Linked DNA regions of Homo sapiens: region 2 is linked to region 1. The links come from fine-mapping of genetic effects on gene expression. A gene starts in region 1. The other region holds a variant in brackets. All regions are shown on one strand. Distances are between the middles of the regions.

Region 1 (15,924 bases):
GAAACTCAAATTAGCCATAGCTCAGACGAACATGGAGGAGTGGGAAGACCTCAGCCCCTATGTAGGCAGAAAGACCTGGGTTTGGGGAGGTCACTGGTACCTCATACCTGGGCAACCTAGCATGGGCTCTTCATTTCTGAGAACTCTTTTCCCTACATGTTCTTCCTCCATAGGCTTGTAGAGGGGATTAAAACAGGGTGACCCCTGCAACCGCTTAGCCCAAAAGCCCAAAGCTGCTTCTCCCTACAACCTTCTCTTTAGTTTTCGTTTTCAGATTTTTCCTGATTATCCCCAATTTTATGAATAATAATTATAACACTTATTTGCTAGACACTGTACTAAGTACTTTATACATGTCTACTCTTTAAATACTTACCTTGACTTTTTTGCAGATAATCAAGTCAATGTGTAGGTACACTTTTGAAATTAGTAAGTGCCATGGTTTGGATGTCTGTCCCCTCCAGACCCCATGTTGAAATTTGATCCCCAATATTGGAGGTGGGGTGAATGGGAGGAGTTTAGGTCATGGGGGCAGATCCCTCTTGAATAGATTAATGCCCTCCCTTGGAGTGAATTCTTGCTTGGCTAATTCCTTCTAGAACTGGTTGTTAAAGAGCCTGGCATCCGGCTCCCCACTCACTTCCTCTCTCACTACGTTTTCTCTGCATACCAACTCCCCTTCACCTTCCGCCATGAATGGAAGGAGCCCATGGCCCTCCCCAGATGCAGATGCCCAACTGTGAACTTCTCCAGACATCAGAATCATGAGCCGAAGAAAGCTTTTTTCTTGGTAAATACCCAGGCTCAGGTATCACTCTACAGCAATACAACATGGACTAAGACAGTCAGTGTGCTCATGCAAATAGCATATCAACAGCCACCTGTGCACTTGATAAAAATGCACATTCTCAGGCTTCAGCCCACACCTGCTGAATCAGAAACTCTGAGGTGGGCCCAGCAATCTCTGTGCCCACATGACCTTCAGGTGACTCTGATATGCACCCAAGTTTAAGAACTATGGCCTAGTTTCCCCGTGTACTCAGCTACCCTATGTGATTAATACAGGCTGAGTATACCTTATCTGAAAGGCTTGGGACCTGAAGTGTTTCAGGCTTTGGATTTTCAGATTAGGGATGCTCAACCTGTAATTACTACTAATAATAGTAAACGCTTATTTGGCTCTTGCTATGTGCCAGGGGCTCTGCTAAGTGCTTTGACATGGAGTGTCTTCCTCATTCTCAAAGCATTTGATGAGGCTATTAAAGTCCTCATTTTACAAGCAAGAGAACAGGCACAGAAAGGTTGGGTGACTGTTTAAGGTCACACAGCCTCAAGCATATGCCTCCTTTTCCACAGTGGTTGTAATGATGACAGGGAGGCAGGCAACATTTTACATAATTTTTTAAAAATTTATTCCCAGAAAGCCTTGCAATCTCAAGGATTTTTTCTTAAAAATGGTAGTTGACCAGAAAATGTAATTGATGGGAACTGGCCCATTCTCAGGGCATCTGGATAATTTAGGTTTTCCTGTGGTCTAGGTGGCAAAGCCAGATGCCTGCAGGGCCAGGCAGGAGACATAACCCAGTGAGGTGGTGCCAGGGTGAGGACTGTGGTGAGCTGGAGAGTGTATGCCCAGTCCAGGGGGAGCAATGGCTGGCTCCACAGCTCTAGAGAGAGGGAGGTGTTGTCATGGGGGGATGTGGGTGTCTTTTACCTTATTTTGTAAGAAAAAAACCAACAGGAATCTGGGTGTTATATGAACTCTCCCAAGTTTAAAAAACTCAGTGTTAAACTCTCTGCATTCTGTTTTTTCAGACACCATGAAGGCTGAACAAAGGATATCTGGGGGCAAAATCTGACCCATGGGCTGCCCATTGCCACCTCTGGGCAGCCCTCCTTGATGGTGTGGAGTCCGCGGTCCGCATTGGTTAACTTAACTGTGCTTCCTCAGATCCAGTCTGGAATTAATTATTGAATTGTATGCATTTTCAATGCCATCCTCAAGCTAACAGCCAACTATGCGGGGGAATAAAACGGAGCAGAGAACCGAGTTGGGTTCCAGAGACCCCAGATTGTCTTCATTTGCAGTTGCCAGGTTCCCTGCAGCCCGGGTCTGTGGATTTCCCGCGGCTCAGCGCCCGCAGCTCAGGCTCCGTGGAGCCCGGCGGCATGGACGAGGCGTCGCGCGCGCCCTCTAGTGGAGAAAAAGGGTCACTGCCGAACGCCAGCTGCGGACCGTCGAGAGTTCCTTGGGCCATGGCTCCTGCCGGGAGCAGCAGCCCTGGGGCCGGGATCCAGGATGCAGAGGCGAGAAAATGAACTGCCCGGCCACCACGAAGACAACCCACCCCTTGCCAGTCACCCCTCAAACTACTGACAATGTCAACAACAATAATTATAACAATCATATTAATAAGTAGAATGACAAATATAATAATATTTAACAGTTTGTGATTTTCAGCCCACAAGGTTTCGCCTACTGTGTAGATTACTCGGGACTCTGCAGGCCAGTAGGCCATGTATAGATGGACAGAAAGAGGTTTGTTATCAGAAATGGGCTCACATGACTGAGGATACTGTGAAGTCCCACGACCTGCTGTTTGCAAGTAGGGGATCAGGGAAGCCAGTGGAGTAGGTCAGTCCAAGCCCAAAGGCCGAGAACCAGAGGAGCCGACGGCCCAGCTCAAGCAGAAAGAGTGGCACTCACCCTTCCTCTGCCTTTTGTTCTCTTCAGGCCCTCAGCAGATTGCAGGACGCCCCGACACAAGGAAGGGCGATCTTGACTCAGTCAGTCCACGGATGCACGCTAACCCCTTCCAGAAACACCCTCACAGACACACCTAGAAATAATGTGGGGTTTTTGGTGTTTTACTTTTAATTGCATTTATTTTAATGCCGGATGTATTTCCGCGTTGCCAGCTCCTGAGCATCTCTGAGCCCAATCAAGTTGACACATACAATTAACCATCACGCTGTGTCAGTTCAATCATTAAAAATACGCAACACTCAGCCGGGCGCGGTGACTCACGACTGTAATCCCAGCACTTTGGGAGGCTGAGGTGGGTGGATCACAAGGTCAGGAGTTCGAGACCAGCCTGGCCAACTGGTGAAACGCCGTCTCTAATAAAAATACAAAAAATTAGCTGGTCGTGGTGGCAGGCACCTGTAATCCCAGCTGCTCAGGAGGCTGAGGCAGGAGAATCGCTTGAACCCGAGAGGCAGAGGTTGCAGTGAGCCGAGATCACGCCATTTCAGTCCAGCTGGGAGACAGAGCAAGACTCCGTCTTGAGAACAAACAAACAAACAGACAGACAGACAAAAAAACACGCAACACTCTATTAACGCATGAATGTATTCTCACCGAACAAGATTCAAACAGTATGAATGAACATATTGCAAATGTTTTTAAGTGTTTTTGAAAACTTTCATTTTGAAACAATTTCAAACTTAGTTGAAAAGTTGCAAGGATGGCACAAAAACCTTCTATTAATACATAGCTTTTAGCAGGATTCCTCAGTTGTTAACAATTTGCCACATTTGCTTTATAATTTTTGCTCTGTCTCTACATACTTTTAAGATCTGAGCCATTTGAAATATAATGCCCCCTTATAATAGTTCCGTGGGTCTTTCCTAAAAACAAGTCATTATCTTCCATAATCCAGTACAGTTGTTCAAATCAAGAAAATTAACATGGATGCAATAGTATTATCTCATCTGCAGACCTTCTTCAAATTTCACCAATTGTCTCAATAATACCATCCTTTTTAGCATTTTTTTGGCTGATTCCCACTACAAACTATGAAAGCACAAATGTCTCTCCTCTGCCTTGCCCAGAGGTTCCTCTTTCAATCATAGGGGAGGTGCCGATAGGGTCTGTCTTTCATTTTTCTCAATGGAAGCACATTCCCCACTTCTCAATTTGCCTTGGGAGCTCTTATTTCAATCTCTTCTCAATCCTTCGAAGCAGGACTCCTCCCTAGCCATATTCTACACAGAAGGAAACAGAAACTCAGCGTGAGGACGGCTCCTGCCCTGCGACCTCAGGTCCCCCAGCTGCCTTGCTAAGAGTTGAACCGTGCCCCCAGCCCCTACCCTGATACATTTCAGCAAATTGATATGCAAGGCCCCTTTCCAGGCCCTGGGAACATGAAGAGGAAGTTGCTGATGGCTGTGCTCAAAGACTTCCCAGGCTAGTGCAAGGGACAGGAGAGGGCGGCCCTGCTGGAAGCTCAGTGAGGAGCCCTGCGGTGGGGAGTGGTTGAAGCCGTTAAGTCCTCTGGTGACCTATGGGTGTGGAGGCTGGACCAGAGGGCCTTAAGGGGTAGCCCTGCAGGTCCCAACCCCATTCTTGGTGGAAGTGTTGGCTGAGGTCTCTGGAGTTGAGTGGGGTGGCAGAACTGGGCACTCTCATGACAGGAGAGGGGGGATGGGCAGGAGAGGTGTTCAGAAAAGGAGTGCAGGGAGGGCGGAAGAGCCGCTGTGTGAGTTTCCCCCAGCCCCTTGAGCAGCTGTGGGCCTCCTGCCCAGTCCCCATGCTGGGACCGAGAGGGCAAAGCGTGCAGAGAAGGCTGCACACCCTGCAGCCTCAGCCAGCGCGTGATAGGGGAGCTCTGGGCAGGGACAAAGCTGCAGTCCCTGTCCCTGAATGTCGGGGCGGGGGGGGGCGGGGATAGAAAGGAGAAAATGGGGCAGAGAGAAAAGAAAGCGGTGGCGTGCACATGCCCAGGCCCTTTGCTCCACTTTCCATGCTATATGAGACACTTCCCAAAATTCACACTCCCTGGGACCCTGAGGATGGGGGCTGTATCAGAGGAATTAATTCAGTCACAGGAGGACAGGAGTCCAGCTCTGACTCAGTCCCAGTGGAGCATCGTAGAAAACCGACAACCAGTGTCCAAGGAGCCCACTTTGGTGTCTGATGGGTCACCAGGAAGAGTTTATTAGATTCCTGAAAATCATAAGTAAGCATCCCTGCTTTGTGGAATTTCAGTTGGTGAGTGACAATGCCAAGTATGCAATTTGTCCTTCAACTTTTCATTTATGCCACACCGCGTGCTGGGCTCTCTGCAGGTGCTGGTGAAACAGACATGAAAAGGCACAACCCCTGCCTCGGGATCTGGTGGCAAGATCAACAGGTAAACTGCAGGTCTGATACGGATTGACAGGTGCCACTCAGAGTGAGTACGGGTGGCAGAAACTCAGAGGGGTCCGCCTGCCCAGTCTGGGATTGGGAAAGGCATCTGATTAGTTTCTCATGGCTGTTGTAACAGATTACCACTACCTTAGTGGCTTAAAACAACATAAATGTATTCTCTTATGACACTGAAGGTCGTTAAGTGTGAAATCAGTTTCCCTGGCTATAGGTGTCATCTGAGCTGGTCTTTTCCGGAGGCTCCAGGGGAGAATCGCTTCCTGGCCCTGTTCAGCTTTGGGAGGCTGCCTGCATCCTTGCCTGCAGCCCCCTTCTCCTTCTTCAAAATGCACCCCTGCAACCTCTGCACCCAACATCACACGGCCTTCCCTGCTGCACTCAAATGCCCGTCAGCCTCCCTCATTATGGACACTTGTGATGACATTTAAGGCCCATCTGGATAATCTAGGACACTCTTGCCATCTCCACATCCTTACCCACACCTGCAAAGTTCCTTTTGTCATAGAAGGTAGCATTCCTGAGTTCCAGGGATTGGGACATGGACATTTTGTGGTGGGCATTAGTTGGCCTGCACAGCTGCCTAGAGCAGACATCTCTGCAGCGGCAGGCCAGAAGAGTGAGGGTGCTCCTGGGTGAGGGCCTTGGTGGAGTGGCAAAGGCAGGGAGGGAGAAAGCCTGGCATAGTCAGGGAAGGACAGATGAGCAGGAAAGGCTGGCAGGGGCCAGATCTCATAGGGTCTTGAAATCTCAGCTTAGTCCTGAAGGAATTGCGTCTTGCACAAAACCTAAACATTGAGTGAAGGCTGTTGTCTCAGCCAGGGCCCTAACAGGACACAGATGACACACTAAGATGGGTAACTGAAGTGTGGGTTGATAAAGACGCTGTCTGCAAAGGGGTGGACGGGGTTAGGGAAGCCAGCAGAGCATGGAGCATGCCTGGGACTGACACAGCTGTGAGGTGCTACTGTCTCTTTGGGGAGCTGTGCCTACCCCTAGACCCGAAGAGAGGAGGCCAGGGAGTGGCTATCAGAACCCAGAGAGGGTGGCTGTGTGGAGAAGCACATATGAGTCTGCAGTAAAGGGACACAGCCTACCTGTGGTAACCTGGCAGGGAAGGACCGGGGGTAACAGATGTCCAAGTCCATTCTTCCTGCCCTGTGAGGGCCTGCCCATGCTCCCATTGGCCAAACCCCACTTGAAGCCAGAGAGCAAGAGTGATTGTCCCCATGGCATGGCTGGGTGGGCACAGCAGGGAGGAGGAAGATGGGGTGGGGACAGAGACACCCAGCGCAGGTGTCACATGGGGAGTAGCACCACCAGATCATTGTGGAGAAAGATCACACTGGCCGTGATGTGGAGGGTGGACCCGAGTGGGACAGAGGAGGAGGTGGGGAGGTCAGGGCATTCCAAGTGATTTAAAAAGCACATTAAAAAATGCATTTCCCTAGTTAGGGGTCCATTTACCCGAAGAGGTATCTGGGATTGTTCTGCTCCCAGCTGTGTCTGGTAGAGTGGAATTCGTCCCAAAGTTGCTGTTATATATCACACCAAATGTCTCCCTTGCAAAGGTGCAGCGCCAGTAGAAGGCCTCAGGCAGGCTTGGTTGCAAACAACAGAAACCACTTGTATTGAGTTTAAGCAGAAATGGGATTTATCACTGGCTACTTGGGGGCCCCAGCATCTTTTGAATGACCTGGGAACTGGGCTCTAGAATATGGCCCAAACGTGCCACCTACTGCAGAGCAGCTCCAGGAAACAACACGGCAGCCTGCCCTGAGTAGGGCAACTGCAAAGGGGCTTCCAATGTCGCCTCCCCGCCAGGGTGGAGCCCATGGGACCTTGCTTCGTCCTGGAGCCCCTGGCTCTGAATCTGAGTCTGGTGCAGGTACATCTGTATGGTGAGTTTGGTCACATGCCTGCACCCTCCTGTCTGAGAAATAGAGTTTCTGGCTCCTCTAGACAGTCAGGGACTGAGGAGGCAGGAGCTCCCCAAAGAAAAGATGTTTGAAGCACTGGACAAGAAGAAAGCGGGACGAATGTTCATTACAGGTAAATAAAGGTAAATTACTTTAAAGCTCAGACCGTCAGGTATCCCAAGGAGAGACGGCATGCGTGTGAGTGTCATGTGTGTGAGTATCATGCATGTGAGTGGTTCCATCCTTAGGAAGAAAAACATGGGAGGAACCTGCAGTGTGCAGCCTCTGTCCAGACCCACCTGCTGAGGGGCCCAGGCACCCCAAAGTATACCCTAAATATGATCAGATCCAGGGAGCATTGTGACTGAGTTTTCAGGTTAGCCTCTGTGCAACCTGACTTCCCATGGGCAGGGTGGAGTGCTGGGAGCATTGATTCAATTCTTCCCTTGAGCACTCTTCACCCCCATCTCTCTCCAGAAATGTACCGAGAGTCTAACTGCTCTATACTCTGGGAGGAACACGAACATGATTCCACCTCAGTTCCAAGCTTTCTGAGAACCATCCTGGGAACCAGCAAGCATGACAACTCTCCACCTTCTGCATCAGTCACTTGCAAGGAGGCCAGTGGGCACAGTTCATGCTACTGAGTGAGATGGCGCCCAGAGGCCAAGGCCAAGGGCAGGGCTGCATTTTCTGGTTCTTTTATATTTGTAGCAAGATACTCTTAGTGGAAGAGCCCAATATCTGGGCTTGCCTAAAAGTCTCCTTAGCTAGATCATTCAATTTATGAGCTTTCCATCTTGTTGCAGTGTTGCTTAATTTCTGCCTCTCCATAACAAGAATCACCTTTCTTCCAGTCTCTAATGCATTGTTCTCACTTTCCTATAAACCCTCACCAACATTCTCCTCCCACTACTGGCTTCTCCAGTGCCCTTTAGGCTTTCTCTGACACTTTCTTCAAAGTCCTTTCAGCTTCTGCCCTCTGCTCAGTTCCAAAGACGCTCCCACATTGGTAGGTTTATGTTCCATCAGCACCCCACTTCTGGTACTAAGCTTTATATCAGCTATCTACTGTTAGGCAACAGCCAAAACTTAGTGACTTAAAACAGACACAAACATATATTATCTTTCACAGTCTCTGTGAGTCGGGAATTCAGGAACAGCTTAGCTGGGTGTTCTGGCTCCAGGTCTCTCATGAGGTTGCAGTCTAGATATGAGCTGGGACAGTGGTCATCTGAAGGCTGGAATGAGGCTGGAGGATCCACTTCCAAGGTGGCTGACTCAGATGGTTGGCAAGTTGGTGCCGGCTGCGGCAAAGGCCTTGTTTTCTCTCCAGGTGGACCTCTCCACAAGGCTACTTGAGCAGCCTCACAACATGGTAGCTGCTTCCCCAGGGCAAGTGATCCAAGAGCAAAGGTTGAAGTCACAATGCCCTTATGACTTAGCCTTGGATGTGACACACCATCACTTCTGCAGTATTCTACTGGTAACACTGACCAGCTCTGATTCAGTTTGAGAAAAGAGGACACAAAAGCATGAATAACAGGAGGTAAGTTTCACTGAGGGCCTGTGGATCATCTGGGAGCTGTCTACCACCAATAGTCAAAAGAAAAAATTAGGTATAAATATATGCATACGTGTGTGTATATATATATGTATGTATAATTTTAAAAATATATATTTATTATAAAAGTAATTAATATTATTTGTAGAAATTTAAAAAAAATTTAGAGTAGCAAAAATAAGACAGTAAAGATTACCCCATAATAGCTCCATGCAGAGAAAAATCATTATCAACATTTTGGGGTATATCTTATCAGCCTGAACTTTAAACATTTTTACAAAAATGGAATAATACTGGACAAAATCTTTCATGCTATCAATTTTTTCATTTACTAGTACAGTCAAAAACACAGTTTTATTGCATCTTTTTTCATGGTAACATTATATTCCTGCCAGTGATTAAGATGTAATTGATTTTTCCAATGCGCTATTACTGGACATGTAAAGGTTCTCAAATTGTTACATCATTAACAAAACTGGAATGACCATCTTCAGAGCTAACTTGCTGTCTTTATCCCTGATCTTTCCTTAGGATGGATATAGAATACCAGCATCAGCAAGTGTACACGATTTAAAGCACATTTGGTATCTATTACCAAGCTGCCCTTCAGAGAGGTTGTCTCGTTACACATTCCACAGCTGTGACTGAGAAACCGTCTTGTCGCATTTGACAATCCAGGTTACTATCTAAAAACTTGAGTTTGTAAGAGCAACACGCCATGAGATAATATTCGTGCAAATGTAACTGACAAAAGACTAACATCCCATAATACTAGAGCACCTACAAACCAAGAAGATAAACATCCCATTGGGAAAGTGTAAAAATATGAACATAAAGTTTACAGAAGAAAAAACACAAATGGCTCATAAACACACAAAAAGATGATATTGCTTCCTGGTAATTGGGGAAATGCAAACAAAAACTACAATGAAATATCGTGGTATCGTGTATCAAATTTGCAGAGCATAAAATAGATTACATTCGCAACCAGCAACTACAACCCAACCTTCAGCCTCACTGGACTTCTTGCCATTCCCCAAACCATATCCACGCCCCTCTCCACAGGCTGTTCCTTCTGCCTGCATGCCCTCGATGGCACCAAGGGGGATGGGCACACTAACACAACTGCTGGGAATGGGAAAGTTTCAACCTCTTGGGAATAAAATCTAACAGTATTTATTGGAATGTAACCTGTGCATACTCCACAGCTGGGCCACTACCCTGCAAGAACCCCTCTGGCTGCTGCACAAAGCTCTTCTCTGCATCCTTTTTTATACTAGTGGAACCCTGGACACAGCCTGCATATGGATCAAAAGGGCAGTGGTTATAAATATACTATGGTCCATCTCTAGGCTAGACTGTGATGCAGTGGTTAAAGCCAAGTATTGCAGAAGAGTGATTAAGCATTCGTGCTCCAAAGCCAGATAGCCTAGGTTTCAATCCCAGCTTTGCCACTTACTTGCTGTGTGATCTTGTGCAACTCACTTAGCCTTTCTGTGTCACAGTTTCTCCATCTGTATAACGGACGATAACACTAGCCCCTACCTCATAGGGTCATTGTGAAGAGTAAATGAAATTAATATTGCCTATGTCACAGAGTGATCCTCCTCAAAATCTATTAGATGAAAAAAGAAATTTCTAGAAATTATCTACATACATATTCTGATGGGATTTGTGTAAAGAATTTAACCAACAAACCCATATTACACACACATACACACACACTCACACAGACACACTCACACACACACACACGCACTCACGTGCGTAGAAGTAGATCTAGGAAGATCCATGACACACATGCGAGGCAGGTGAATGGGGACATTAAAAGGAGGACTTCCACGTTTAATTCTGAATGGTCTATTTTATTTGTGCAATTTTTAAAAATCAAAGCAATAAATCACTGTAAAAGAAACCTGCCAGGTTTTGAGTCTTACCATTCTACCCCGGGCTCACCCTTCTCTCTCATTGAATCTCAGGTGTCTTCGGGATCATTTAGTTTAGAAGAGGAAGAAATGTCCCTGGACCCCACCAGTTGAACACTAATGCTCCTTTGGGGATTGCGCCCTCACTGTCTCTCTAAGCATCTGTGGATTGGGGTCTTGTCCCTGCGGGCTCCTCCCGCCTACTCAGAGTGCGCCCTCTGGTGGTGATAACTTGCAGTACTGCGCGCCCACAGCACGTGTGGGGAAGGCGAAAAGCTTTGCTGATTCTCCCAGGGGCCTCAGCCCAGGAGCCCTGGGCTTTGACTCTGGGTCTAGTGCTAGTGGTGGTACCAGATCTCTGTCCCTTGTCGAGGAAGGACACTCTCTATTTGTTTTTAAGTTGTCTCTATCTAGGATTGTCAGATTTAGCAACTAAAAACACAGGATGCCTGGTTAAATTTGAATTTTAGAGAAATCACAAATAACTTTTAGTATGAGTATGTTGCATGACATCTACTAATTTTACACAACTCATACTTATATTAAACAAAATTATTTGTGGTTTCTCTCAGGCTTAAATTCCACTGGGCGCCTGTGTCTTATCTTGTGACTGTGGGAGGAGATCTGTTGGGAAGCGGGTAGGGGAGGTGGTGAGAAAGGAAGGGAGAAGGCCTGGGTATGGTGTGTGATGGAAGGGCACGATGGTTCAGGCGAGTCTTTGGTTGCAGGAGACTGTAAATGGCATCTGCTCTCCAGGCAGCTGGAGCTGTCAGGCTGTAGAACAATGCTGCTCAGCCCTGGGAGCTTTGAAAACCTGACGTGTGGGTCTGATTCCCACAGATTCTGATGTCATTGGTTTGGTGGCATTGGGGTGAGGGTAGGCTCTGGCATTTTTTAAAGCCCCAGGCAATTCAAATGTGCAGCCAAGGTTGAGGACCACTACTCTAGGGGATCTGCAGTGTGTGCATGTGTGCGTGTGAGTGTGCATGTGCGTGTGTGCGCATGTGCGTGTGTGCACCCACTCGTGTATCCCAGATGCCTTCAGCTTGCATATTCCCAAGTTCACCAGTCTGGGGTCCTTCCCGAGAGCCTCCCAGTCCACATGTTATGGAAAAGCCTTGGGCCCTTTCCAAGATGTTTCTAGATTCCCCCAGGGCTTATATTTTACTGGTCATCCCTGGCTCTGATTTCCTGTTCACACTGAGCACTCCCATCTCATTCCTTTCTTCCCCCGGGACTGTGTTTTCTTTCTGCCTGTCAACTTAATGCTGGTCTTTCAATGACCACCAGCAGCTCACAGCTGTCAAGTTTAGCAGATGTTTCCTGCAGGTCTGCAGTTAACAAGAGGTGTCATCCCCAAAGTAAATGATTCTACACTGAAGTCCCCATCTGGGCGGGGAACTCCTGCTAGGAGGAATTTATCACTGGCCATTTCCTCCTCCAATTCCCTCTGCCTCATTTTTACTTCTAGGCCCTCTCATTCTCTTTCAGAAATCACTTTGTCCCCTCCCAAAAAAACAAAGAAACAAAAACAGAAACAAACCCTTCTTCCTCTAGCAGTCAGCATGCAGCTGCTGATCAAGTTCCAAATTGCAGTTCCTTTCTTAATCAGAACAACTCAACTCATTTTTCCTATACCTCTCCTATGTGTCCAGGTATTTCCGAGAGTGATGCATGCTCCTTGGGAAGCATTGGGAATTCTGCACTTCTGGGCCAGCCAGCTCCAACTGCAGCCAATGTTTAAAAAATAGCATCTCTCCCTTCCTTCTATATGTACAGATCTTCAGGGATTTAGCAAATTCTCTTAAATAGCTAGAAGACCTTGCTGACTTCGATGCAAATATTCTGGCCAGAGAACTGAGGTCCTTGGATGAAACCCAATAATCAGAGGGGTCACAGTTTCCTTAGCCCAGGAGGAAGGCAGCTGGTGTCTCAGCAGATGTTCCTAAAGGCCTGGCTTTTTCCACATCTGTTCTGTGTGGTAGACAAGGAGAAGAGGAAGGGAGGAAGGGAACAGAGAGGAAGCAGAGAGAGCTGAAGATTAAAACAATACTGTACAGGTCCCCGCTAAAGATGGACTCTCTGGCTGCCAGGAAAGGACTGAGAGATAAATAGGAGGAGCATAAGAACCTGGGAGCTGGAGGCTGGTCCACCTCCCTCAGCTTCCAGGACCCAGAGGGAGGCAGGCACAGCCAGCCTTGGCCCTGTGGAACCAACACCTTCCAGCCAGGCTGCCAGGAAGCCAAATTCCAAATGTCTAAACTGTATTTTGCACTTTTCCACAAGGTGACCTGCAGCTGCTCTGATGGCCCCTAGGATTCTGTAGGGTACTGTGCAGTCCAGAAAACTTGACTTCCCAATTCTTCCCACTTAGCCAGCTGCCATTTCCTTCCCTCCTAACCACTTTCCTTCCTATTCTTTTCCCTCTGTATTTTCCCCCTTTGTTTTAAAAGTTCAACATGAAACTTTACTCTGTACACTCATCAGGTCAGCAAAAATTAGAAAGTCAGCTAATGCCAAGTGTTAGCTGGAGTAGGGGGGGAAGAGGAACCCTTGTTCTCTGCAAGGGAGTATGAGAAGGTGCAGCCACTCCGGAGGCTGTCTGATGGTGCTGGTTCAAGTCGACTGCGTAAGTCTTCTGCCCACAGCAATGCCACTCCTCGGTATGCGGCGCAGAGACACTTTTTGTCCAAAAGGGGCATGTGGGGAGGTGCTCATTCAGCATTGTTTCTGGCAGGGGCGTTGGCCACTCAGGCACCCATCCCTGGGGAAGACAGAAGTAAATGTGGTGGGTGTACACCTTGGAGAAGCATCTATCAGTCAGAAGCAAGGAAGGGGATGTCCACACAGATTTAGGTAGCTTACGTTAGACACTATGTTCAAATTCAAGGACGCACATCAGATACACAGAAAGGCTGCCTGTGGGGGAATTCGGACTGCAAGTGGAGAATGGGGACTGTAGTGGATTGAAGATGGTCCCAAATTCCTTGTCACTCCCTGCATGGAGAGGTGAGGTGGGGTGCCCTGGGCAGGCTTGTGACTACTTGACCAACAGAATACAGCAGAAGTGGTGCTTGTCAGTTTCCAGGCCTGGGCTTTTTAGAGGGTGGCAGTTCACTTCACCTCTCTTAGGACACTCTCTGGGAGCTTGAAGCTGCCATGTAATCAACTGCCCTAATACCACCAGGTTGCTGAAACCATGTTCAGGAGCTCTGTTTGTGGTCCTAGCTGAGCCCAGCCTTGCAGCCAGCCCCCACCAGCCAATGTCACCAGACATGTAAGTGAAGCCATCCTGGGATCTCTAGACCAGCCCAGCACACCTACAGGCTGATTACCATGGAGTGACCTCCGTTGGCACCACATTCATCAAGAGAATCAACCAGCTGAGTCCTGCAAATCCAAATCCACACAACTGTAATATGATAAAGTATCTAACTTTGGGGGTATATATTAGCCTGTTTTCATGCTGCTGATAAAGGCATACCTGAGACTGGGAAGAAAAAGAGGTTTAATGGACTTATAGTCCACATGGCTGGGGAGGTCACACAATCATGGTGGAAGGTGGGGAGGAGCAAGTCACATCTTACAAGGATGACAGCAGGCAAAGAGAGAGCTTGTGCAGGGGAACTCCTCTTTATAAAACCATCAGATCTCATGAGACTTACTCACTATCATGAGAACAGCACAAGAAAGACCCACCCCCATGATTCAATTCACTCCCACTGGGTCCCTCCCATGACATGTGGGAATTGTGGGAATTACAATTCAAGATGAGAGTTGGGTGGGGACACAGCCAAACCATATCATTCTGCCCCTGGACCTTCCCAAATCTCATGTCCTCACATTTCAAAACCAATCATGCCATCCCAACAGGCCCCCAAAGTCTTAACTCATTTCAGCATTAACTCAAAAGTCCACAGTCCAAAGTCTCATCTGAGAAAAGGCAAGTCCCTTCCACCTATAAGCCTGTAAAATAAAAAAAAAAAATTAGTTACTTCCTAGCTACAATGGGGGTACAGGCATTGAGTAAATACAGCCATTTCAAATGGGAGAAATTGGCCAAAACAAAGGGGCTACAGACTCCATGCAAGTCTGAAATCCAGTGGGGCAGTCAAATCCTACAGTTCCAAAATGATCTCCTTTGACTTCATGTCTCACATCCAGGTCATGCTGATGCAAGAGGTGGGTTCCCATGGTCTTGGGCAGCTTTGCTTCTGTGGCTTTGCAGGGTATAGCCTCCCTCCTGGCTGCTTTCATGGGCTGTTGAGTGCCTGCAGCCTTTCCAGGAGTATGGTGCAAGGTGTTGGTAGATCTACCATTCTGGGGTCTGGAGGACAATGGCCCTCTTCTCACAACTCCATTAGGCAGAGCCCCAGTAGGGACTCTGTGTGGGGGCTCTGACCCCACATTTCCCTTCTGCACTGCTGTAGCAGAGGTGCTCCATAAGAGCCCCGCCCCTTCAGCAAACTTCTACCTGGACATCCATGCATTTCCATGCATCCCCTGAAATCTAGGCAGAGGTTCCCAAACCTCAATTCTTGACTTCTGTGCACCTACAGGCACAACACCACATAGAAGCTGCCAAGGCTTGGGGCTTCCACCCTCTGAAGCAACAGGCTGAGCTGTACCTTGGCCCTTTTAGTCATGGCTGGAGCAGCTGGGACACAGGGCATCAAGTCCCTAGACTGCACACAGCAGAGGGACCCTGGACCTGGCCCACAAAACCATTTTTTCCTCTTAAACCTCTGGGCCTGTGATGAGAAGGGCTGCCACAAAGGTCTCTGACATGACCTAGAAATATTTTCCTCATTGTCTTGGCGATTAACATTCGGGTCCTCATTCGTTACTTATGCAAATAAATTTCTGCAGCCAACTTTAATTTCTCCTCAAAAAATGGGATTTTATTTTATATTGCATTGTCAGGCTGTAAATTTTCCAAACTTTTATGCTCTGTTTCCCTTTTAAAACTGAATGCCTTTAACAGCACCCAAGTCACCTCTTGAATGCTTTGCTGCTTAGAAGTTTCTTCTGCCAGATACCCTAAATCATCTCTCTCAAGTTCAAAGTTCCACAAATCTCTAGGGTAGGGGCAAAATGCCACCAGTCTCTTTGCTAAAACATAACAAGAATCACCTTTGCTCCAGTTCCCAATAAGTTCCTGATCTCCATCTGAGACCACCTCAGCCTGGATTTATTGTCCATATCATTATTAGCATTTTGGTCGAAGCCATTCAACAAGTCTCTAGGAAGTTCCAAACTTTCCCATATTTTAGTTTCTTCTTCTGAGCCCTCCAAACTGTTCCAACCTCTGCCTGTTACCCAGTTCTAAAGTTGCTTCCACATTTTCAGGTACCTTTTCAGCAGTGT
Region 2 (9,477 bases), 44 kb after region 1:
CCAAAGTGCTGGGATTACAGGTGTGAGCCACCACACCTGTCCAAGAGAGTTTAAATTAACCCTCAAAAGAAACATTCAGGTGTTGGATTATACTCATCCTCTAACACCAGCTCAATCATTCACAATGGGTCAGTTAATGACAAACATTCTCTCTTAATAGCTCACCATCCTTGAGATTACCTAATGTCTGTTCCTACTGGTTGACTCTACACTGATCACTCACCTTTAACCCCAGGAGAAGCCCAGTTCAGGCTGCCTCAGCCCCAGGTTCTTTCTTCTGCAAGCCCTTGATCACTCTGACTAGTCCCTTCTCCATTTTTGGCACCCCACATCTTACTCTCCTTCCTCAGGGAAAATTCTTCTGACCCCTAGATCCAATGAGATATTTCCTCCATGCTACAGAAACTCAAAGCCTCATTTTTTGTAGCAATTATTATAATTGGAAGTGAATGATTTACAGACAAATTGGCCACCTGAGTCCCCTGATAGGGTGTAATATTTAGAATGGGGACCACGACTTGTTCATCACTGTGTCTCCAGCTCTTAGCACGATAGTTCTTAGCTCAAAGAGAATGTATAAATTCCTGTCTGTTTCCTAAAGCTGTGGGATAGCATCACAGAGTGCGTGGGTAGGATTATGTGTAGCCATAATCTTCAGAAAAGAAGGAGCATTCTAGCAGGAGATGATGGATGAATCTGTCATGACTTAAATAGGTAAGTGATCCTGGAGATTGTCTGCACTTGGTTCACACTGTGACAATTTCACTATCTGTCATGGGGACCTGTGTCTTGGTTGCTGGGTCTCTGAACATTGACAAAAGGCTGCATTCTGTATCCATGACCTTCCCTCTGCAATCAAAGTAAATGATGAGGGATAAAAGGGGAAGGGGATGAGGAGTGAAGATGATCAAGCTGAAGGGAGGCTTATTATTTATCCAAACCGTGGAATAGGAGGCCTCCACAACATCCAAAATGTATTCTTCCCTTCAAGAGACATGTAATACACACCAGCAGTCATCAGAGAGCGCCATTGCTGTATTAATAATCCAAAACATTCGGAAATGGCTGTGCGGAACATTGTTTTAACTTTGGCTTAGGTAGTAATCTGGTTTTCAGGTATCCTTCACGTAGCAAATTGTTGTTGCTTCTCAGTATTAAAACTTGTCTGTAATAAGTTGCCCGACCCCAAAGAATTACGCATTTTAGGTGCTGGAATATTTTTTGTTGAAGGCCACATGAAAAAGTAGAACTTCCCCAAGCCCAAATCTAGACCTCACTGAAACTGGAAAAGAAATGAGATCTATCATTTGCCAAGGGAGATATAAGAAAGTAGTCACATGTATGGACTTTTTGCATCAGGTGACACTGGATTGGAATCCCAGCTGGCAAAGCTGGATCATCCCTCTGAACCTTAGTTTCCCCAGGACAGTGGAGAGGCTTAAGTGCCATTTCGGCAATCCATTTTAGCACAATTCCTGGTCTTTAGCAAATGTTTAATAACATATTATCATCATGAATTTACATTTGGGTCAGGAGGTGATTTAATTAACTTCTATTTCTCCTCTTAGCCTCTAAATTCCACAAAGGCAGGGATTGTCCATTTCAACCATCATTGCATCCCTAGCACCAAGAACAGTGCCTGGGACATCAGGCTCTCCACAAATATATGACGGATGAATGAAAAACAATAAAGGATGAGTGAATGGGAAATTTACTCTTCTAGGTATAGGATAAGGCCATTTAAGACTTTTGATAATGCCCTGGACCAAATGTCAGAATATAGTCAATATTCAGAGGGGTCAAGTACAATCTAGGAATCTGTCCATAATATATGACTAAACTGGACTAAGAGTCTGGGGCTTGGAGCAGGCCCAAGGTTAGAAGATAATCTGGGAGTTGCCTTGGTAACCTTCCGACCTTCTAATCGAAGATCCTGGTCCTGAAGCGAGAGCATTCCAGAGCCCTAAGACTGAGCCCAGGGCTGCATTTAGACACCAAAGCTGCTTGGGGTAGACTAGTTATTGGTCCTTCTTTGTGATCATGAGGTGGCTCTTTTTCTTCTTACCTATGTTTATTCATCCAAGGAGTCTTGCCAATTCTTAGTCTGGACAGCTGTTCATTTCTTAATTAACAGCATCCAGAGTTTCTTGAGATTGCCTTGTCTATAGCATTTTGGCTACATCTGCACCATCTGATCCCTGCTTTTTTGTTGTTGTTGTTTGTTTCCTTTTGATGTTTTCCAGCATCTCTAATGATAGATTGGATCTGATACGCATTAAGAAGAAAAACAGGGGCCGGGCGCAGTGGCTCACGCCTGTAATCCCAGCACTTTGGGAGGCTGAGGCAGGCGGATCATGAGGTCAGGAGATCGAGACCATCCTGGCTAACACAGTGAAACCCCGTCTCTACCAAAAATACAAAAAATTAGCCGGGTGTGGCGGCGGGTGCCTGTAGTCCCAGCTACTCAGGAGGCTGAGGCAGGAGAATGGCGTGAACCTGGGAGGCGGAGTTGGCAGTGAGCTGAGATCGCGCCACTGCACTCCAGCCTGGGCGACAGAGCGAGACTCCGTCTCAAAAAAAAACAAACAAAAACAAAAACAACAAAAACAGGGCTTTAATACACAGGAATCCCCAGCACCAAGCAACACTACTAGCATCTCTCCAACCAAATACGCATCTTGGACAAGATTTCATGCTACAGTGTTTTTAACACATTGTCATGTCAAATTATTAGTAATAGAGGATGTATAGTGAAAGAGGAAACCTGATACAATACAGAGAAAAAGGTGAGACGTTTGGGTTTTGGGTTACGTTTGGATCCAGCCCCTCTGCTTATTGGCTGTGTGACCTAGGGCAATCCATTAGCCAGTCTGAGCCTCCATTTGCTCATCTGTAAAGTGGGGATAGTAATACCTGCCTTGAAGAACTGTCACAAAAATTAGAGACAATATCTGTGTAGAACCTGACACAGAGTAGGCCCTCAATAGCTAATAACTAATAATGTGGACTTGATACAACAACCCGATGTATTTAATTGTAGCCTATTATTGGGCAGAAGTCTTGGCTAATGTGTATCTAGAGTTAACACTAATAAATGTATTAGTTTGATAGTTTCAATCTTATGATGACGTAGGGATTGACTCAGCCAGTCTCTAAAGTGGTGGACTCAGTGAAGCCAAGTTCATGGCCAAATCCTGCATGCTACTGCTGCTGGGTCTGGATCCATCCTCTACCTCTGTCTTCACACTTGGTGTTCTCTAGCAACACTTCCTCTGCCCCCAGTTACTTCTAGTTGCCTACCCAATATCCATTTCCCCTAATTTATAAACAGGATCCAATTTTGTCTGGGGCTGCAGCACATCTGGCTAAAGTATATACATCTGTGATTTCCTTGTTGCTAAGAGTGACCGTAGGGCCCAGTTCTGGCTGAGGAGAGAGAAACTGAGGGTTTCTGGGAAAGCTTTGCCTTGCTGATAGAAGCACCACTCCTTCCTGCTGTAGCATCCTTCCTTCTTCCTGCAGGGAGGTTCAGCACTCAAGAACCAACACCCTGAGGGTTATTTGGGGCCATGTTACTAGTTCCGGCCAAAGAGTTGTGAGCAGAAGTGACTTGTGTCACTTCTAGGCCGGGCCATTTTCATACCAACATAAGACCTCCCAGAGCTCTCTTTCCACCTGCCGTGGTAACCAGGAAAATTTGAGATGATGGCTAATCTATCATCCTGGGCCTCAAAGTGAGGTGATGTGGAGCAGAGGCCCCAGATAACCCGACATGTAACATGAGTGAGAAAGAGACCTTTTGTTTTAAGCCACTGAGATTTGGAGTTGTTTTTGACTGTGGCGTAACCTAGCCTATCCTGCCTGATACAACCCTGAGCACATTCCTCCACTAACGCCATCACTTTTGGAATGACCAAATATGAAAGCTAATGAGTGAATAAATGCATGAGTGGATCAAATTTCTTCCCCAGGGCCCTGTGCCTTCAGATGATTTCTTTTTTTTTTCTTTTTTCTTTTTTTTTTTTTTTTTGCGACGGAGTCTCGCCCTGTCGCCCAGGCTGGAGGGCAGTGGTGTGATCTCGGCTCACTGCAAGCTCCGCCCCTCCAGGTTTAAGCAATTCTCTGCCTCAGCCTCTGGAGTAGCTGGGATTACAGGCGCGTGCCACCACGCCCGGCTAATATTTTGTATTTTTAGTAGAGAC[GGGGTTTCACCATCTT/G]GGCCAGGCTGGTCTTGAACTCCTGACCTCATGATCCACCCGCCTTGGCCTCCCAAAGTGCTGGGATTACAGGCGTAAGCCACCACACCCGGCCCAGATAATTTCTATGAGTGACTCAACCTAGTTTACTCTATAACTCTTTGAGACAGCTTAGGTCAGTCCTTCTTTAACTTTGGTGTTTGTTGAAATTCCCTGAGGACGTCGTCAAAACATACAGGTGCTCAGTCATCCTGCCAAACCCACAGAATGGATCTGTAGAGACAGGCCATAGCCGTTTACATTTTTAAGCAAGTTTTCAAGGGGGTTCTGAGAGTGGGCCAGGGTGGGGAACTGTTGTTTCTCTGGGTAGAAACATCAGATCCGTCAACGGAGCAGAAAGAGAGATTATTTTCGGCACGTGGGTTTCTCGAAATCATTTTCTCCTCAACTCCTACTCCCATCCTGCCTGCTTGTTTCTGGCTGGCCACTTCTGCCTAAAACTGAATACCTTTGGTAAAGATTTACTTGAATGCAAAAGTCAAGCTCTACGACCTTTGTTGGCAATGTATCCTCTCTGGCCTTTGCACCTCTTGCCTGTAAAAGAAAGGAGCTGAAACAGGGTGATCAGAAGAGTAGTAGATCTGTGAGAGACAACATTGAACAATCTAACAATTCCACTGCTGCCACGCATACAATACAGTGTGATGAGTGATTGTGCTACTTCTAAGATAATGAAGAATATATATATATATATATATATATATATATTTTTTTTTTTTTTTTTTTTTTTTTTTTTTTTGAGATGGAGTCTCACTCTGTCGCCCAGGCTGGAGTGCAGTGGCACAATCTCGGCTCACTGCAACCTCCACCTCCCGGGTTCAAATGATTCTCCTGCTTCAGCCTCCTGAGTAGCTGGGACTACAGGCACACACCACCACACCTGGCTAATTTTTGTATTTTTAGTAGAGACAAGGTTTCACTATATTGGCCAGGATGGTCTTGATCTCCTGACCTCGTGGTCCACCTGCCTCACCCTCCCAAAGTACTAGGATTACAGACGTGAGCCACCGCACCCAGCCAATATGTATTATGTGTATACATTCACGTGTGCTGCACGCCCTGGGGCATAATGATGGGACAAAGTTTAAAGCTGCGGACAAATGTCTCCTTTGCTCCTGCCAATATTTATCTGCAATTGCATGTTTAGCGTTATTTGGAGAGAATATCTAAATCTGAGGACTCTGGACCGTGAGGCCCAGGGGAATAGCTCTCCTGCCATCCAATCTCATCCAAGGACTTCCCACATCCTGTGCCAAGAGAGCACAGGGAAGCCTAGCTCTGGGTGTCTGGGTGTGGCTCAGGTGTGGCTGGGTGTGGCTTAGGTACCACCTCTCTGTGGCCAGGCTGTGTCAGAGGCAAGCAGAAGTATCTGAGCTGATGCTCGTGGGAATCCCTTTCATTTCCGAGGGTTGAGCAGGCCCCAGCATGTGCTGGATGTTTCTGAAAATGCAGCTGAAATCCTAGAGATTCAGGGGATGGGGAGAGGAGAACAGCAGATGGTGCCAGCCAGGGGAAGGGAAGTAATATTTATTACGCACCTTCTACATACCTGGTCCTTACCCTCCTTACTCCCATCACCTCTAGTTGAGACAAAAGCTCTGCAAGGCAAACAGATGTTATTCCCATTTTACAGATGAGAAGACTAAGGGGCAGAGAAGGGACATCAGTTGCCTGGTGTTGAAGCCAGGGTTCAAACAAGACTGCCTGATACCTAAAGCCTGGGTTCCTCCTGCTATAACATATCAGGAGAATTGTGGCCTTCAGAGATAGGTCTGGGGTAGAATCCTGGCCCCACCACCAGGAGAGGTTCTCTCTCTTCTTGGAGCCTCTTTCCTTGTGTGTGACATGAGGACAATAATAGAACCTACATCACAGGGATGCTGTGAGAATTATATGAGACAATGCCTGGTAAGGGCCAGGCTCTAGACCATGCTCCCATGATGATTCTAGAAAGAAAAGGGACTCAGCTGTGGTGATTTGCTGTAGAGGGGAGGGGCCATGCCGGGGTGAGGAGGGACATGCGTATAGATTTTATGACTCCTGAGTTCAGAAAGCTTTCTCAGGGCACAGGTGGCTGTTGTTGAATGCAGCCAGCCTTCCCAGGGGCCAGGGCGAAGTCCCACAGAGATGTGTAATAGCTGAGTGGGCAGCATGGGAGGCATCTGATGTCGTGTCTGTCTCAGCATCAGGGTAGTGACGTCTCTACAGGATCTCCAGTGGTGTGATGTGGGTGTGGATCCTATCCCTGTAGTCTCTCAGCCTGAATCTCTGGCCTTCCCAGAGATCTTGAGAGTCACTCATATTCTATCCTGCATACCTTTGCTGCTTAAAGTTGCCAGAATTCATTTCTGTTACAACTAAGAACCTTTCCCGGGTAAGTAGGTGGAGGAAGGAGTGGCTCAGGGCCCCAGGAAGAAGGAAGAGTTTGAGCAAAAGCTCAGAGGCTTGAAGGGTATCAGTATATTCTGAAAAGGTGGGGCTGGTCCCATGAGCTGCGTGGAGGTTGCAGAGCATGTGTTTGAGATAGGGTGATGAAGTAGCCTGGGACCTCAAATGCTGCAATTTCAGAGATTGAATTTGACCTTGGAGTAAAGACAATGCTTTTCAATAGGGCAGGAGCAGCATAGTATACAAAATTTACGAAGATTCTTCTGGGACAGCACGGAAGTGTGAGTGGATGGGGTGACACTGGAGGCAGGGAGACCAGAGAGGGGGCTGCAGGGATCATCTCATGGGGCGGGTGTTGGCTAGGGCATCACTGCTCCTTGAGATCTGGCTCAGCCTGCTCACTGCCTCCCAACCTACCTCTCCCCATGGCCATCCTAGGTCCTGCAGAAGGCCAATCCTGACCCCCTCCATGATTTCTTCAAATTCTTCACCTCTGCATTGAAGTCCTGCCTCTACTGTATTCTTTTAAATTTAGGGGCTTTTATACGAATCTCAGCACCTGGATTATTTGGTACTGATTGACTTTCTGAAGGTATCAGAGGAGGGACTGATGTTTCAGCCACATTAAAAACAAATAAACAAGTGGCAAATTGTACTTTCAACCTTGTTCTTAGAGGACATTCCATGTCCCAAGGGACCCATAGTCAGCCTCCCACCCACTCACTATCCAGCTCACAGTGCCTCGCTTCCCCCGGATCTTCTTGGGGACACACCCTGGCCTGTCATCTCTCTGCAACCAAAACAAAGTGTGGGCCCAAGAAGCCTGTGGATATTCTAGGCATCCTGGCTCCTGCTGCCTGTCAGACAGTTACAAGAAGAGGATTTATTTCCAGAGGGAGCCTGGGGCTACAGTGAAGCACCCATCTTCCTTAGGAGACAGTGGCTCAGGAGCCTGTAGGCAGGAAAAAGGCTGCCTGCCTGAGCTCCAAGAGGCTGGGCTTGGCTCCCAGCTCCCCTTACTCTGGGCCCTCCAGTGCTTCATTCGTGGGCTGTGCTTCCAACATCTGCTGCTGCCACTTGCAGTTTGAGCAGAGTGTCTTCTGGGGCCACACCCAGAAGTAAGGGTTTCCTCTAGCCCCTAGGTGCTGCTAGATACATGTACAGTTCTCAGGGGCTCAACCAGGAATGAAACTCTGCTCTCCTACCTCCATTTCAGTGCTCTGTCTTCTGTTCCCTTTCCAGGTGGGCTTTGATTGGCAGGCCCCATTCAGTGGACCCTGGGCATTGTCAACACTACTTGCCAGATTTCCCCAGCTCTCTGCCCTCCAGATCTGAGGCAAGACGGCACTTGCTGGCCCCAAGGCAGGGCCATGTGACTAGGTCTGGCCAGTGAGCCATGCGTGGAAGTGACATATGTCACTTCTGGTTGGGAGCCTGTAATTGCTGCTCTAATCACCCCTTCCCAATGCCATGGTGACTGTGGGAAATATTTGAGATCAGGCGGCTCCAGCAGCCTGAGGTCTGAGTTAAGAAAGTCCTGGAATGGAGCCCCTTGCTGGACATGTAAGCGTGACCCAGAAATAACCCTTGGTTGTTTTTAAGCCCCTCAGATTTAAGATGTTTTTGTTACTACAGCATTACTGAGCCTAACCTGATTGATACGTGCACATTTGCCTGAGATTTGGTTACCTGGCATCTCAACTCTCAATGCCCTTCCTATTTGGGGGGAACTCTGTACCCCCTGAGGCTTGTTAGGTGGCAGAGCCTTCCTATGGGTAGAGAAAATACCAGATACCCACTTTCCCAGCCTCCTTTGCAGCTCTGTGCACAGCCATGGCCAGAAGGGACAGTGCTCCAGCTGCAATGACAGGGGCCCTGTGTTTGTAGCAGCTGCAGCAATGATGTCACTGGACTGGTTCTGGAGCAAGAGTTTTGTTTGTGATTCTGGCTGCGAGACCGCCCTTTTTCTTACCTATTTCCTGAGCCTAGTTCTTCAGTCTTCCTGTCAATTCCGTGAGCTACCTAGAATCTTTCAATGAATTCCCTTTCAGCTTAAATCACCCAGAATACATTTATGTTGCTTGCAACTAAGAGCCTTGGAGCAGTACTGCCAGTTAGAGGTCAATGTGAAGCTGGAAGGGAGGGCAGAAACTGGCAAGATGCACCTGCCTTCCCTTGCTTTTCTCAAACTTGCTTCTCCAGGGGCAGGCCTTGTATATCTTAGCCCAGTGCAAGCAAGGGTCTTCTGGTCAGACTTGGTCACCTTTTGGGCATGTGAGCCTCACTTCCCTTATCTGTAGAATAGAGTGACTAAAAGACCTTATTTTTAGGGTGGATATGAGGAAGGCATTTGAAAGAGAATGTATTTGAGAGAGTTCCAGGAATGATAAAACAAGACCCCCAGTACAAGTTTACCATGTTATTATTGTCAAGTGTTAGCTTGCATGAGTATATCCAGCTGTGGAATCGCAGTTGGCATAACAAGGTAAAGTGGCATCTTGAGACCCTTCCTAATGTCACTCTGTCACTCAGCTCTTTGGAGGTTACAGTTCATTCCTCTTCATTCAGACCCATGTGAGGTTCTGCCCAAGAGACCTAAAAACCCCAGCCTTTAGATACGAAGAAATTCCTTGTGAACTTGGTAAAAACAGAGAAGCATAGAGGTGGGAAAGAATATTAGGGACCGTTTTATTCAACATTCAACTTGCAGAGTTCAGAGACAGGGAGCCACTAACCCACGGCCACACAGCAACTCTGTAGCTGAGCTTGGGGGTTGGAATGTGGAACTTTTGAACCTGATATTGGGGTTGTAATCTGGAGGTAGGGTTGTTTT

Direction of the effects. Alleles are on the strand shown, and positions count from the first base shown. SD is a standard deviation of normalised expression in the study named.
As copies of GGGGTTTCACCATCTT replace G in region 2, the expression in visceral fat of the gene that starts at base 8,569 in region 1 goes down (small effect, 0.35 SD a copy in GTEx).

What was found. PIP is the estimated chance that this variant, and not a neighbour inherited with it, causes the effect.
Region 2: its variant is fine-mapped to the expression of LINC02995 in visceral fat (GTEx, PIP 0.91).

Annotation. Positions count from the first base shown.
Region 1 is chr5:173,571,066-173,586,989 of GRCh38, forward strand. LINC02995 (long intergenic non-protein coding RNA 2995) reads left to right here and starts at 8,569. Exons shown (of 4, transcript NR_027108.2): 1 at 8,569-8,617; 2 at 9,164-9,310; 3 at 12,213-12,843; 4 at 13,045-14,003.
Region 2 is chr5:173,618,101-173,627,577 of GRCh38, forward strand. No RefSeq gene overlaps it. Among named protein-coding and RNA genes, the nearest start is that of BOD1, 6.2 kb to the left of the region's middle. The variant GGGGTTTCACCATCTT/G (reference allele first, on the strand shown) is at 4,203.